Linked DNA regions of Homo sapiens: all the other regions are linked to region 3. The links come from fine-mapping of genetic effects on gene expression. A gene starts in region 3. Each other region holds a variant in brackets. All regions are shown on one strand. Distances are from middle to middle.

The links. PIP is the estimated chance that this variant, and not a neighbour inherited with it, causes the effect. A credible set is the group of variants that fine-mapping cannot tell apart.
Region 1: its variant is the best candidate, but not a certain one, in a credible set for the expression of SLC26A1 in pancreas (GTEx, PIP 0.52).
Region 2: its variant is the best candidate, but not a certain one, in a credible set for the expression of SLC26A1 in esophagus muscle (GTEx, PIP 0.75).

The regions. Positions count from the first base shown.
Region 1 is chr4:945,326-949,427 of GRCh38, reverse strand. TMEM175 (transmembrane protein 175) reads right to left here. Exons shown (of 11, transcript NM_032326.4): 2 at 1,536-1,719; 3 at 1,274-1,312. The coding sequence starts at 1,688. Among named protein-coding and RNA genes, the nearest start is that of TMEM175, 15 kb to the right of the region's middle. RefSeq lists an enhancer at 3,699-4,102. The variant A/G (reference allele first, on the strand shown) is at 2,285.
Region 2 is chr4:898,518-902,625 of GRCh38, reverse strand. The region is part of intron 5 of GAK (cyclin G associated kinase); the gene reads left to right. Among named protein-coding and RNA genes, the nearest start is that of GAK, 32 kb to the left of the region's middle. The variant C/T (reference allele first, on the strand shown) is at 2,501.
Region 3 is chr4:991,220-995,355 of GRCh38, reverse strand. SLC26A1 (solute carrier family 26 member 1) reads left to right here and starts at 1,952. Exons shown (of 3, transcript NM_022042.4): 1 at 1,952-2,055; 2 at 3,626-4,136. The coding sequence starts at 3,653. The region is part of intron 2 of IDUA (alpha-L-iduronidase); the gene reads right to left. RefSeq lists enhancers at 992-1,803, 1,804-2,615.

The DNA.
Region 1 (4,102 bases), 46 kb after region 3:
CTCTTCACATAAATGTGTTCTCTGAATGAGCTTTTGACTCTCCAGGACTTTCTGAGACTCAGACCCTCCCTGTGACCCAGTTAGGACAACAGAGAAAAGACAGGGCACTAAACACCACAGTCCTAGAAAGGTGCCCTGGCTGCAGAGAAGTCGGAGCAGGTTTAGGTTCACAGGTTTTTATTTTCAACCACCCGGGCCCTTCATTGTCATGCGCCCTCTGGCACGGGCATCACAGGTGGATGTGGCCGTACCTCAGCGACCCCGTTCTGAAAGGGGCAGCCAAGGCCAGTACCTCACGACTGCATTTGGCCAAGCCCACCCCATGGGCCTCGGTGGGGACGCAGCTTTCCTGAGCAGCTGCCCCCCTAGGGAGGGCGGGAGCGGCTCTGGGGTCCCAGTGCCTGTGCTGCTTGCTGCCTGCTGGTGCCCAGGGTCTCCCTGCAGACTGGGCCAGGCTCCACCCGCATTTCTACTTATGAAAACCCTATGTAAAGTCTCATCATCCCCTTCGCACAGCTGAGAAAGCCGAACTCTAAGCAGCTCCCATGACTTCTCGGCGTCCCCCAGGCTCAGCTCACGAGTCAGGACTGGAGGCCCAACCTCAGTACTGGCCCAGGAAGGGCTACGTGGTCACTGCTGTGCCTTGCGCACCCATGAAGCTTGGGCCGCACGACCCTGTCATGAGGACACAGAGCCAGGCAGGTGTGGGCCCCAGACGCCCTCCAGTCATTCCCCTTCTAAGATGCTGTTTGGCTCTTTAGCTCAGAAACAGTCAAGGTGGAAACTCTGCTTGTAAACCCTTTCCCGCTCACCTCCAGGCCTGCAGGAGCAGCCGGGGTGGGAGTGTCCCCGCTGAGACGGGGCGCTGGCCGCGTTTACTCAGAGCAGCTACGTAAGGGGCCTGCCTGCTGGGGCAGCTGCCCTCCCGCAGAGGAAACTTCTGTCCTTGGGGCAGGCCCGGAACCTTCCTCTTCCAACCTGTCCTCTGGCTCACTTCCAGGGTGCTGCCTTTGTCCACTGAACTCGGAAACAGAGCCCTAGGAGCCCAGTCTCCCACCCTCCCAGGAGGCCAGGACCTCCGCCGGGGTGAGCACAGGCTGAGCAGGACTTGTTGGCTCCCTCCCTTTCCAAGGAGGCCCCCGCCTCCCGCCTCTGCCTCCTAAGCCTCAGAAGCTTCGAGGCGTGCAGGGTCAGCACCCTGTGCCAGGTCGAGCCTCGGGGACCCTATATCTTCGCAGGGCCACACCACGCAGAGCACAGCCTGCCCCGTTACCTGTTCTGGGGAGATCTCCGTGTGGGTCACAGGCAGGATCTGAGGGGGCAAAGAGACAGAAGGAAGCAGGAGAGCAAGAGACGCTTGTTGGATTGGGTGTGGCAGTACTGGGGACTCGAGGGCAGTGCTGGGCCCCCCTAAGCTGCCTGAGGAGCTGGGGGACCCAAGGATGCTGGCAAGACCTAGACAGGTCTGAGGTGGGCTGGGCAGTGCCTCGAGAGGCTCGGGGTGGGGCAGGCCTAAGCAGGGGCCCCGTACAGACCATGACGGTGGCGATGATGGACAGCAGGGCGTCACTGAAGCTGAGCATGCGTTGGGAGCACTGGATCCCCTCCCCAGCGTCCTCGTCTCTCCTGCCTGGGGGGCAGTCCCCCGGTGTATCCAGTGCCTGCTCTGGGGTCCGGGGCTGGGACATGGCGGGGCCGCTGCCTGGCGGTTACAGGAGCCTGGGAGGAAAGGCAGGTCTGAGTGTGCCTGTGGGGCGCTCCTGGAGGTCGGCCATGCAGCCTCAGCCCTGGTGCAGGGACAGGGACTGGTATGGGGGGGGGCTTGGCCGCCACTGAGCAGGGGAAGGGTCCACGCTGCTCTGTCCTCTCCCAGGTGCCCCTCAAATTTCTGGCCTCCAGGCTGAGAGGCCAACAACAGATGCCACTCCCGGCCCTGTTACTGGTGAACACTGATCTGGGTGGACTGGGCCTCAGTTTCTCCTCAGGAAACGGGAGAGACAAGGAAAGGCACAGAGATCACAGACCCCAAGGCCGACCTAAACGTGGAAGAGGAACACAGCACCCTGCGGGGCCCTTGACCGTGCATGCGTGCCTGGGGCTGTCTGTTCTCTACAGGGCCCGTGCACACGTGCCTGGGGCTGTCTGTTCTCTACAGGGCCGCGCTCTCCCCCGCTCTCGCTCTCGGGGCCCGTGCACACGTGCCTGGGGCTGTCTGTTCTCTACAGGGGCCGCGCTCTCCCTCAGTCTCGGCACCTGTGCACGTATGCCTGGGGCTGTCTCCTAC[A/G]GGGGCTGCGCTCTCCCCCGGTCTCGGCGCCCGTGCACGCATGCCTGGGGCTGTCTGTTCTCTACAGGGGCCGCGCTCTCCCTCGGTCTCGGCGCCCGTGCACGCGTGCCTGGGGCTGTCTCCTACAGGGGCCGCGCTCTCCCTCGGTCTCGGCGCCTGTGCACGCGTGCCTGGGGCTGTCTCCTACAGGGGCCGTGCTCTCCCTCGGTCTCGGCGCCTGTGCACGCGTGCCTGGGGCTGTCTCCTACGGGGCCGCGCTCTCCCTCGGTCTCGGCGCCTGTGCACGCGTGCCTGGGGCTGTTTCCTACAGGGGCCGCGCTCTCCCTTGGTGACCTTTGGGGAAACCAAGGCCCTGCATATGTAGCCAGTTAGCACCAGGGCAGGCACTCCAGTCCGCCTGTGGGAGCCGGGGCTGGGTGCACACTGGGCACACGCCACAGCTGTGGCTCAGCACAGCACTCCCCAGGCATTTTTAATATCAGAGATGCATCTGGGAAGATGAATAAGATGCCAGGTGGAGAGTACTCTGGACAGAAGAGACCCCAGCGCCTCACGGAGACAGAACTGAGGTATGGCTGCAGGAGCCATTGCTGCATGGTGCTGGGCAGCCTCGTGCCAACCAGGCACTATGGATTTCACCCTGCACCCGAGTGGGCAGCCTCGTGCCAACCAGGCACTATGGATTTCACCCTGCACCCGAGTGGGCAGCCTCGTGCCAACCAGGCACTATGGATTTCACCCTGCACCCGAGGTGGAGGCTGGGCACACTGAGACAAGTTCCCCAAACATAGAATGTGGCCAGAGAGCCCCATGTTGGCTGAGCCCCACCTGCAGCCAGGTGCCCCGGAGCAGGGAAGAGGGCAGCAGTGTGTCAAGGACGCCAGTCAGAAGGGCTGCTATGACCTAGGAGAGGAGTGACGGAGGTCTGGCATCCCAGGAGACACACAGCATGTGGGAAAGCAGCTCCTAAGAGTATTGGGGGCTGCCGTGGGGGGTGACGGAGAAGGGGGAGCCCACCTGGCCCTGATGCCACCGTGGTGAGGAAGGTAGGTCAGGGCACATTCTTGAGGGATGGTGAGTGCTTGCTTCAGGCTTGTTTCCTGGGACACAGCAGAAGCACCGGAGGCTGTCTCAGGGCAGGGGAGCTATGGGGATGGAAGGAGTCAGGCTGGAGCTGCAGCCTTCAAAGGTACCTCGGATTGAGCCGTGTTAGAAACAGAAGTAATTTCTGTGCTACTTGGAAATGTGGGGGTGGTCCGAGGGAGTGGCACCCGGGAAGGAGGAGAGGAGCAGCCGGGGGCAGGACAGGCTGGGCTCTCCACCATTTAAGGGGCGGAGACCTCTTCAGGAAGGGTATGGGGAGAGCCCTTCAGCACCAGCGGGAGGTGACAAGCCAGAGCCCCCAGGTTTTACTCCAAAGGGGGTGCTGTTTACTTGGCCAAGGGCATCAGGGGACTGAAATATGTGGCCAGCTAGAGGGTCCGCAGGAAGAGGGATGTGCTGTAGTCTGCTCACACCAAGGCGAGACGCACAAAAACAAGGAGAGTTCACCCCAGAGAATGGACAGAGGCTCACTGGTTTCCAGCCGGGAAAAACAAACACACAAGGCATTCCACTTCACTAGCAATCAGGGAGATCGGGGAGGTGCAAATGAAACGGAGAGAGGCCAGCCAGGGTGGTGGGCGTGAGGCGACGGGAGGGCAGGGACCTGGGGAAAACAGAAACCGAGGCTGGAATGAACGGTGGGGACAGACGGCGGGGAGTGAGACGACAGGACGGCAAAGACGTGGGGAAAACAGAAGCTGAGGCAGCAACAAA
Region 2 (4,108 bases), 93 kb after region 3:
GTTTTTTGGGGTTTTTTTTTTTTTTTTTTGAGTCAGTCACTCTACAGCCCAGGCTGGAGTGCAGCGGCACTGACGGGGCTCACTGCCGCCTCGGCCGACTTGGCCCAGGTGATCTCCCACCTGAGCCTCCTGAGTAGCTGGGACCACAGGCGCACACCACGCCTGCCTAGTTTTTGTATTTTCAGTAGAAATGGGGTTTCACCATGTTGCCCAAGCTGGTCCAGAACTCCTGAGCTCGAGTGATCCACCCGCCTCAGCCTCTGAAAGGGGTCGATTCCAGGTGTGAGCCACCGCTCCCAGGCTGCCAAAGTTTTAAAGCCTTATCACTCCCAGATACTTTTGTCCATGTCTCTGGGGACGTGAGGACATTTCTGTTTTTTTTTTTTTTTTAGGCGGAGTCTTGCTCTGTTGCCCAGGCTGGAGTGCAGTGGCACGATCTCGGCTCATGCAGCCTCTGCCTCCTGGGTTCCAGCGATTCTCCTACCTCAGCCTCCCGAGTAGCTGGGATTACAGGCATATGCCACCACGCCGGGCTAATTTTTGTACTTTTAGTAGAGACAGGGTTTCACCATGTTGTCTAGGCTGGTTTCGAACTCCTGACCTCAAGTCACCCTCCCGCCTTGGCCTCCCACAGTGCTGGGATTACAGGCGTGAGACACCACGCCCGGCCAGGACATTTTTTATGTGGTTTTGACACCATTATCCGCAGTGAGGTGGGAGGAACCGAGCCTTGTCTCTTGCCCTCCTGTTCTCAGCCTTCCCTGGTTTTCCCAAAGTGTGGCTTCTCTCAGACCTCGCTAATCGGGAGCGGCGCCTCTGGCCACGGCTTGTGGAGGATGCCCTGTGCTGTCCTTGGCTCCCCGCCACTGCCCAGGCCAAGGGGACGAGGAGGCCAGTGAGGCCCCAGCCCCGTGGCGTCTCTTGTGGAGCACGGAGCTGTGTTTCAGATCCTGCTCCCAGCACCCGCCTCAGCTGCTCCTCCAGCTGCTGAAATCTACCTGGCCTGTGTCCAGAGGTTTCGTTCATCTGGAATTGACCTTGTGTGACCTGAGGTGGGAGCTGTATCCTTGTGTCTACCTGGCCCTGCACCCCGTGCATCAGCTCATGTCTGCCCATGCAGCCACCTGGGCCCCGCCTCCTCTCCAGCGTCTGCTCGTGGGTGCCTAGGAGGCCTCAGAGCCCCCCAGCTCTCCCCGTGTGCCCTAGGTGGGGGATCCAAGGCCGTGGCTCTCCACGTGTGCCCCGGGTGGGAGGCCCAAGGCCGTGGCTCTCCACGTGTGCCCTGGGTGGGGGATCCAAGGCCGTGGCTCTCCCCGTGTGCCCTGGGTGGGGGATCCAAGGCCGTGGCTCTCCCTGTGTGCCCTGGGTGGGGGTGCCTAAGCCGTGGGCACCCATGCTGAGCTGTTCTTAACTGCACAGGCTCATTCCGCCTCAGCCTGCCTCAGCCCACCCAGGGCCAAGGCTCTGGCAGGCAGCTTCCCTCTGTGTTTCTCTGGTTAGGGCTGCCTTTTCTCTACTTGGCTGTACACTCCTACTTTATAGCACAGGTGTCTTCACGTAGATTTTGAAAATGGGTAAGTGTGGCCTTTTTCGTTTGTCCCCTGAACTCAGAGGGCCTAGAATGCCAGGGTGTAAGGTGGCCGACTGGACAGATGCCCCATGGCAGAAGCCTGTGGGCACCGCCATAGAGCCTGCTCCTGAGCCCCAGGCCCTTTCGCTCCCATGGCCACCGCTGTGGAGCCTGCTCCTGAGCCATGCCCCAGGCCCTTTCACCCCTTCTCCTTCCTTTCCTCCCTCCCTCTCTTCCTTCTGTTTCTTCTTTCCTTGTATTTTACTTTTCTAAAAGTACATTCTGCCCAGCACACAGGGTTGCTTTTGAGGGAAGCTTCTTCAAGGTTGCAAGCAAGACCCCTGGTTTCCAGAAACCCATGCGCCTGAGGCCCCATTCTGACGGAAGGGGCTGCAGGGCTCCATGAGGGGCCAGTCCTGCCCGTGGAAGGTGCTGTTTGCTGTCTGGGTGGTTCTTCCTGAGGAGTCTCTGAGTGGTGGATTTTCTCATGACACCGAGACCCTCCTGGTTCGCATTTTTGAAGTGTGATGGGTCGTGTAGCGGGGCTTGAGTGTGTATTTTAAGGAGAACAGAAACAGAAGGGTTGAATTGGTGAAGAATCCGTGTCTGTGAGCCAGGCCTGCACTTCACAGCACTGGCCTTGCTGCTGCTCCACAGCGGCGTGGCGGGAACCCAGGCCAGCCCTGCAGCCCGCGTGTGTTCACCTGTGGCCTCCGCCGTGGGAGTCTGGACGGCTGTTTGCGGAGGGGCAGGCAGCACACGTGGCCCCACTCGCCTGCCCCGTGCGTCGTCCTGCTGTGCGCACAGCTTCGTCTCTGTTGGCTGTAGAATGGGAACGGGCACAGGTGGCCCCACTCGCCTGCCCTGTGCATCGTCCTGCTGTGCGCACAGCTTCGTCTCTGTTGGCTGTAGAATGGGAACGGGCACACG[C/T]GAGGGGATGGGCACTCCTGGGCCTTCAGTGGCCGTGTGCCACTGCATCTCCCCGCTGTGTGCTCTGCATCCGAGCCAGGGTCGCTGATCTTTTCTCTGGGCGTCCTGTGAGGGGAGCCTCGCCCCACGCTCTGCATCTGATTTTCTTGCTCAGCCCTGTGGTTCAGAGGCCCCGGTCCTGTATGTGGCCCGCATCTCCTCGGGGGCCAGTGGTGGCCTTAGGCTTCACTGGGTTTCTCTGGTCGGCCATGGGTGGCATGTGTGTCCGTTTCTTTCCCTTGTTTATGGTGAGCCATCCTGTCTGCACCACGTGGACAGCCTGTTCAGCTTGCTGGTCCGCGGAGCAGGCGTCCTCTCTAGGACTGGGGTCTGCAGGGCGCTGTGGTTGGAGAGCGTCTGCATCTAACCCTGGGCGTCCCCTTGCACTCTTGGATGCCACGGCTCTGCACTTTGCTGTCCTGGGGCATGGCGGGTGCTGCTCCCTCAGCCTGTCCTGGGTGCCCATGGCCTTAGTTTGCATTTTTTCTCCTGTCGATGAGGCTGGCTTATCAGAACTTGGGCTTCCTCTGGGAAAATGCCTGCCTTTCCTCGACTTGCCTTCCTCTCGCTGCCTGTGTGAGCCCATACTGACCGCGTGCATGCCGAGCACCTTCCGTCCGTGGCTGGTGTGCTGCCCTCTCGGAGCCCTGTGCTGCCTGTGGGAGCCCGTACTGACCGCGTGTGTGCCGAGCACCTTCCATCTGTGGCTGGCGTGCTGCCCTCTTGGAGCCCTGTGCTGGCATTGTTCTTCCTCTCCAGAGGGATGCCTGTGCTGGCCATCCTGCCACGTCTGTGCTGTCTGTCTTGTTGAAGAAGCCGCTCCTTCCCTATCTCAGAAGGAGCTCCTCTGGGCCATCTTCCGAAAGATCTGTGGTTTGCCTAAATGTTGGGGCTGAGGCTTCCTTGATTGTGTGAGCTGGGGGCGAGGCTTTCTCCTTTCGTTCCACATGGATGCCTGGTGCTGGCAGCTGTTTTGCCATGGCTCTGCCATTAAGATGGGTGTTGTGTGGGGCGTGAGCACTGTGGGGCTGAGTCACTGCGTTGCTGCCTTGTCACGCGTGCAGCCTCTGGCGTCCGTGGCTTCTCAGCAGCACTCGCTGGATTCCCTGTTTGGCCCGAGCTCCCATGCCCTGTTATCAGAGCTGCGCCAGAAGGTGTAATGTGGGCTTCACAATTGTGTGGCCCTTTCTAGTTCTTTGTGTCTCTGTATACTTTTTTTTTTTTGAGTCGGAGTCTTGCCCTGTCACCCAGGCTGGAGTGCAGCGGCGCAATCTCGGTTCACTGCAGCCTCCGCCTCCCAAGTTCAAGCGATTCTCCTGCCTCAGCCTCCTGAGTAGCTGGGACTACAGGCGCCCGCCACCATGCCTGGCTAATTTTTGTATTTTTTAGTAGAGACGAGGTTTTACCATGTTGGTCAGGCGTGTCTCGAACTCCTGACCTCAGGTGATCCGCCCGCCTTGGCCTCCCAAAGTGCTGGGATTACAGGCGTGAGCCACCACGCCCGGCCTGTGAGCCCCATTATTAACTGGATTATCTTTCTTTGATTTATGGGTGGTTTTTAATTTTCTG
Region 3 (4,136 bases):
TTGAGACAGAACTGGCCGGGCACGGTGGCTCACGCCTGTAATCCCAGCACTTTGGGAGGCCGAGGCGGGTGGATCACAAGGTCAGGAGTTCAAGACTAGCCTGACCAACATAGTGAAACCCTGTCTCTACTAAAAATACAAAAATTAGCCGGGCGTGGTGGCACACGCCTGTAGTCCCAACTACTCAGGCGGCTGAGGCAGGAGAATCGCTTGAACCCGGGAGGCAGAGGCTGCAGTGAGCCGAGATTGTGCCACTGCACTCCAGCCTGGGCAACAGAGCGAGACTCCATCTCAAAAAAAAAAAAAAAAGACTTGTAGGCTGGAGTGAAGCGCTACAAACATACCTCACTGCAGCCTGGACCTCCAGGGCTCAAGCAATCCTCCTACCTTAGCTTCCCAAAGTGCTGGGCCAATGACAGCGTTTGTTTTTGAGACGGGCTCTTGCTCTGTGGCCTAGGATAGGGTGCAGTGGCCTAATCATACCTCATGGCAGCCTCAAACTCCTGGGCTCAAGCCATGCTCCCACCTGAGCCGCTTGAGTAGCTGGGATACAGGCACACACCACCACACCCAGCTAATTTTTTACTTTTAATTTTTTAAAGGTTGGGGGGCAGGGGGCGGCCGGGTGCAGTGGCTCAAGCCTGTAATCCCAGCACTTTGGGAGGCCGAGGTGGGTGGATCACGAGGTCAGGAGATCAAGACCATCCTGGCTAACATGGTGAAACCCCGTCTCTACTAAAAATACAAAAAATTAGCCGGGCGTGGTGGCGGGTGCCTGTAGTCCCAGCTACTCGGGAGGCTGAGGCAGGAGAATCACTTGAACCCGGGAGACAGAGCTTGCAGTGAGCCGAGATCATGCCACTGTACTCCAGCCTGGGCAACAGAGCGAAACTCCGTCTCAAAAAAAAAAAAATTAGCCGGGCGCGGTGGCGGGCGCCTGTAGTCCCAGCTACTCAGGAGGCTGAGGCAGGAGAATGGCGTGAACCCAGGAGGCAGAGCTTCCAGTGAGCCGAGATCACACCACTGCATTCCGGCCTGGGTGACAGAGCAAGACTCCGCCTCAAAAAAAAAAAAAGAAAAGGTGGGGGGCGTCTCACTATGTTGACCAGGCTGGTCTTGAACTGCTGGCCTTAAGCGATCCTCCTGTCTAGGCCTCCCAAAGTGTTGGAATTACAGGAGTGAACCATCGTGCCTGGCTAATAATTCCTTTTAAAAAGCAGCTTACCCTTATTTTCACGTGTGGGCCTAATTTAGTTCACTTAAAAAAATCATTTATCTTCACCCCAGCCCTATGAGGCAGGCACTGCCGGTCCTGGTCTGTGGTAGAGGGGAGGGCAGAGGAGCCGTGAGGGTGACCAGGCGCTGTGGGTCGGTGCTGGGTCCAGTCAGACCAGGACTCCTGGCCAGTCACGGCACCTTGACCCCGGCAGTCCTCGCCCTGGGCGGTGAGCACCACACACAGGGCTTACGCGAGCACACACGCATATGCACGCACCGGCAGCCTTGGGCTGAGCCGGCTGTCAGCCTCTGCCCTGCTCCAGCTTGGACCAGGCTGGCTCCTTGCAGGACCAGGAGGGTGTCCGGCGACTGGACACGGAGACCAAGCCTCCCTCAGCCCCGCCTGGGTTTGAAGGCTGCTGCACTCGACCCCAGACCCCAGAGCTGAAGGTTTACCTGTGCTCAGCCCCTGAGCCCCCGCCTCCCGCTGGTCCCTAAGCCCCCCCGGCAGGGCCGCAGAGCCACAGCTGCAGCGGCTCCTGGGAGGCTGGGAGCTCCTCAGAGGCCCACACAGCTCTAACTCCTACAAGCCCCTGATTACAGTTCAACTCCCGGATCAGCCGATCAGGTAACATGGCTGGAGAAACCCATGACTCAGCAATCTGTAGGTAAATAATTGAACTACAGAGTCCAGGGCACAGACCACTGCCTGCAGGTTGGCGCCACCACCCCCACTCTCCCCGCTGCTCGCGGGAGCCAGAGGGCCCTGCGGTCCTCGGTGGTCTTGCCAGCCCCTCGTCATCCCAGGGCCCTCCGCGCCTGTGAGGACTCCCTCAGGTAAGAACCATCCTGGGCCCAGATCTCAGCTGCAGCAGAGGGGGGCGTGGGAGCCGAGGCCAGAAATGCCCTGGACTCGTGGTTTCTTAGGGGCACCCTCAGGCTCAAGGCAGGTGGCCCTACTGTCCCCATTCCACACACCTGGACCCCAGGGGCTTGGGGTGGGCTTCAGGGCATCCAGGGACCCAGTGTGGTGGGGTCTTCCAGGGAAGGGGACACAACTCTTGCAATGTTGCCTGAGGGCCAGGACCCCCGCTCTGTGCCCCAGGGGTGCTGTGCCCAGCCTGCATGTGTCAACCTACCAGGCTGGGCTCACTGCCCCAACACACCCGCCAGGAGACTGGAGCTCGCACACCCTGGGCCAGCGTGCAAACAGCAGGCTCAGCCCAGGCTCCAGGGTGTCCTGGGCACCTGGTGTCCTGGGAGCAAAGTCTTTGCCTAACGTCGCTGAGAAGAATGTTTAAAGTGAAAGTACATTGGAGTCTGCAAACAGGACAGACCCGAGGCCTCACGTGGGACCAGTCAGGCCTCTAAGCACCGCCTCCCTAACGCCACGGTGTTTTCCGAGATCAAGGGAAAGGTCAGGTGCCCTTCCGGCTCTGCCGGCCCAGGGTGACTGTGTGCAGCGGGCTGGGCCCTCTCGGTGCTGCCTCGGGACAGTGTGTCATGGCCGTTCCACAGTGAGCTGGTGCAGCCTGGGAAAAAGGGCGCCTCACGTCCCAGAACTGTCTGGGCAGGGGAGACAGACGCCAGTCACCCTCCTCCCCTCCCAGCTGGCCCTGATGGGGCCCCCGTCCAGGCATATTCTCAGAATTCTGTCCCAAGTCCAGGCGGATGGGCTAGGCTAGTGTCTGAGTGCTGCTCCCCCAGCAGACTTGGGGTCCCAGTACCCACAAAGCTTGGCAGGGACATAGGAGGCCTCTTCCTGAGACTTCCGCCAGCCCCAGGACCCACAGGGCAGGTGACAGAGGGGTGGGTGGAGGTGTCTCCAGGAGAGCAGGCGATGGTTTGGATGGGGGAGGGAGGGCTCTGGTGTGGGCATGGGGTGGACAGCAGGACCGTTTGCCAACCTGGGGAGCCAGGGAGGTGGACACGGAGCAGCTGGACTCAGGCTTGCCTGCACCTGTGTCCAGTGACTGTGACATTCTGACGGTAGGCACATGTGCGTGGTGGCAGCCCAGCCTGTTCCTGCCCCGTTGGGGAGGTGAGCTTCAGGAGGCTACAGGGTGGTTTTCAGCCAGGAACCGCAGAGCCAATAGGCCGGAGCTGAGCCTGGACAGGGTGCCGCCACGCCGCCCCTCAGCACTGCTGGCCTCAGCACACCCCATGGCATGGGCTTGGTGTCGTAATCCCATCTCACCTCACGATGGATTCTGGATCCAGCAGGGCCCAGCGTCCATCCATACCGGGCAGGGGGCTGGGGCCCGCGCTGCCAGGAGAAGGCCCAGCACCAATCCCCGGCCCTGGGTGGGCGAGGGGTCCGCCCCAAGGGGCCCGTTGCTGCCGGGGACCTTGTCGTTTGGCCCTGGATCCGGGGGCTCCTGTGACCATGCCCTCTTCTCGGCCGCAGGTCGGCCACGGGACCTGACGCAACAGGATGGACGAGTCCCCTGAGCCTCTGCAGCAGGGCAGAGGGCCGGTGCCGGTCCGACGGCAGCGCCCAGCACCCCGGGGTCTGCGTGAGATGCTGAAGGCCAGGCTGTGGTGCAGCTGCTCGTGCAGTGTGCTGTGCGTCCGGGCGCTGGTGCAGGACCTGCTCCCCGCCACGCGCTGGCTGCGTCAGTACCGCCCGCGGGAGTACCTGGCAGGCGACGTCATGTCTGGGCTGGTCATCGGCATCATCCTGGTGCCGCAGGCCATCGCCTACTCATTGCTGGCCGGGCTGCAGCCCATCTACAGCCTCTATACGTCCTTCTTCGCCAACCTCATCTACTTCCTCATGGGCACCTCACGGCATGTCTCCGTGGGCATCTTCAGCCTGCTTTGCCTCATGGTGGGGCAGGTGGTGGACCGGGAGCTCCAGCTGGCCGGCTTTGACCCCTCCCAGGACGGCCTGCAGCCCGGAGCCAACAGCAGCACCC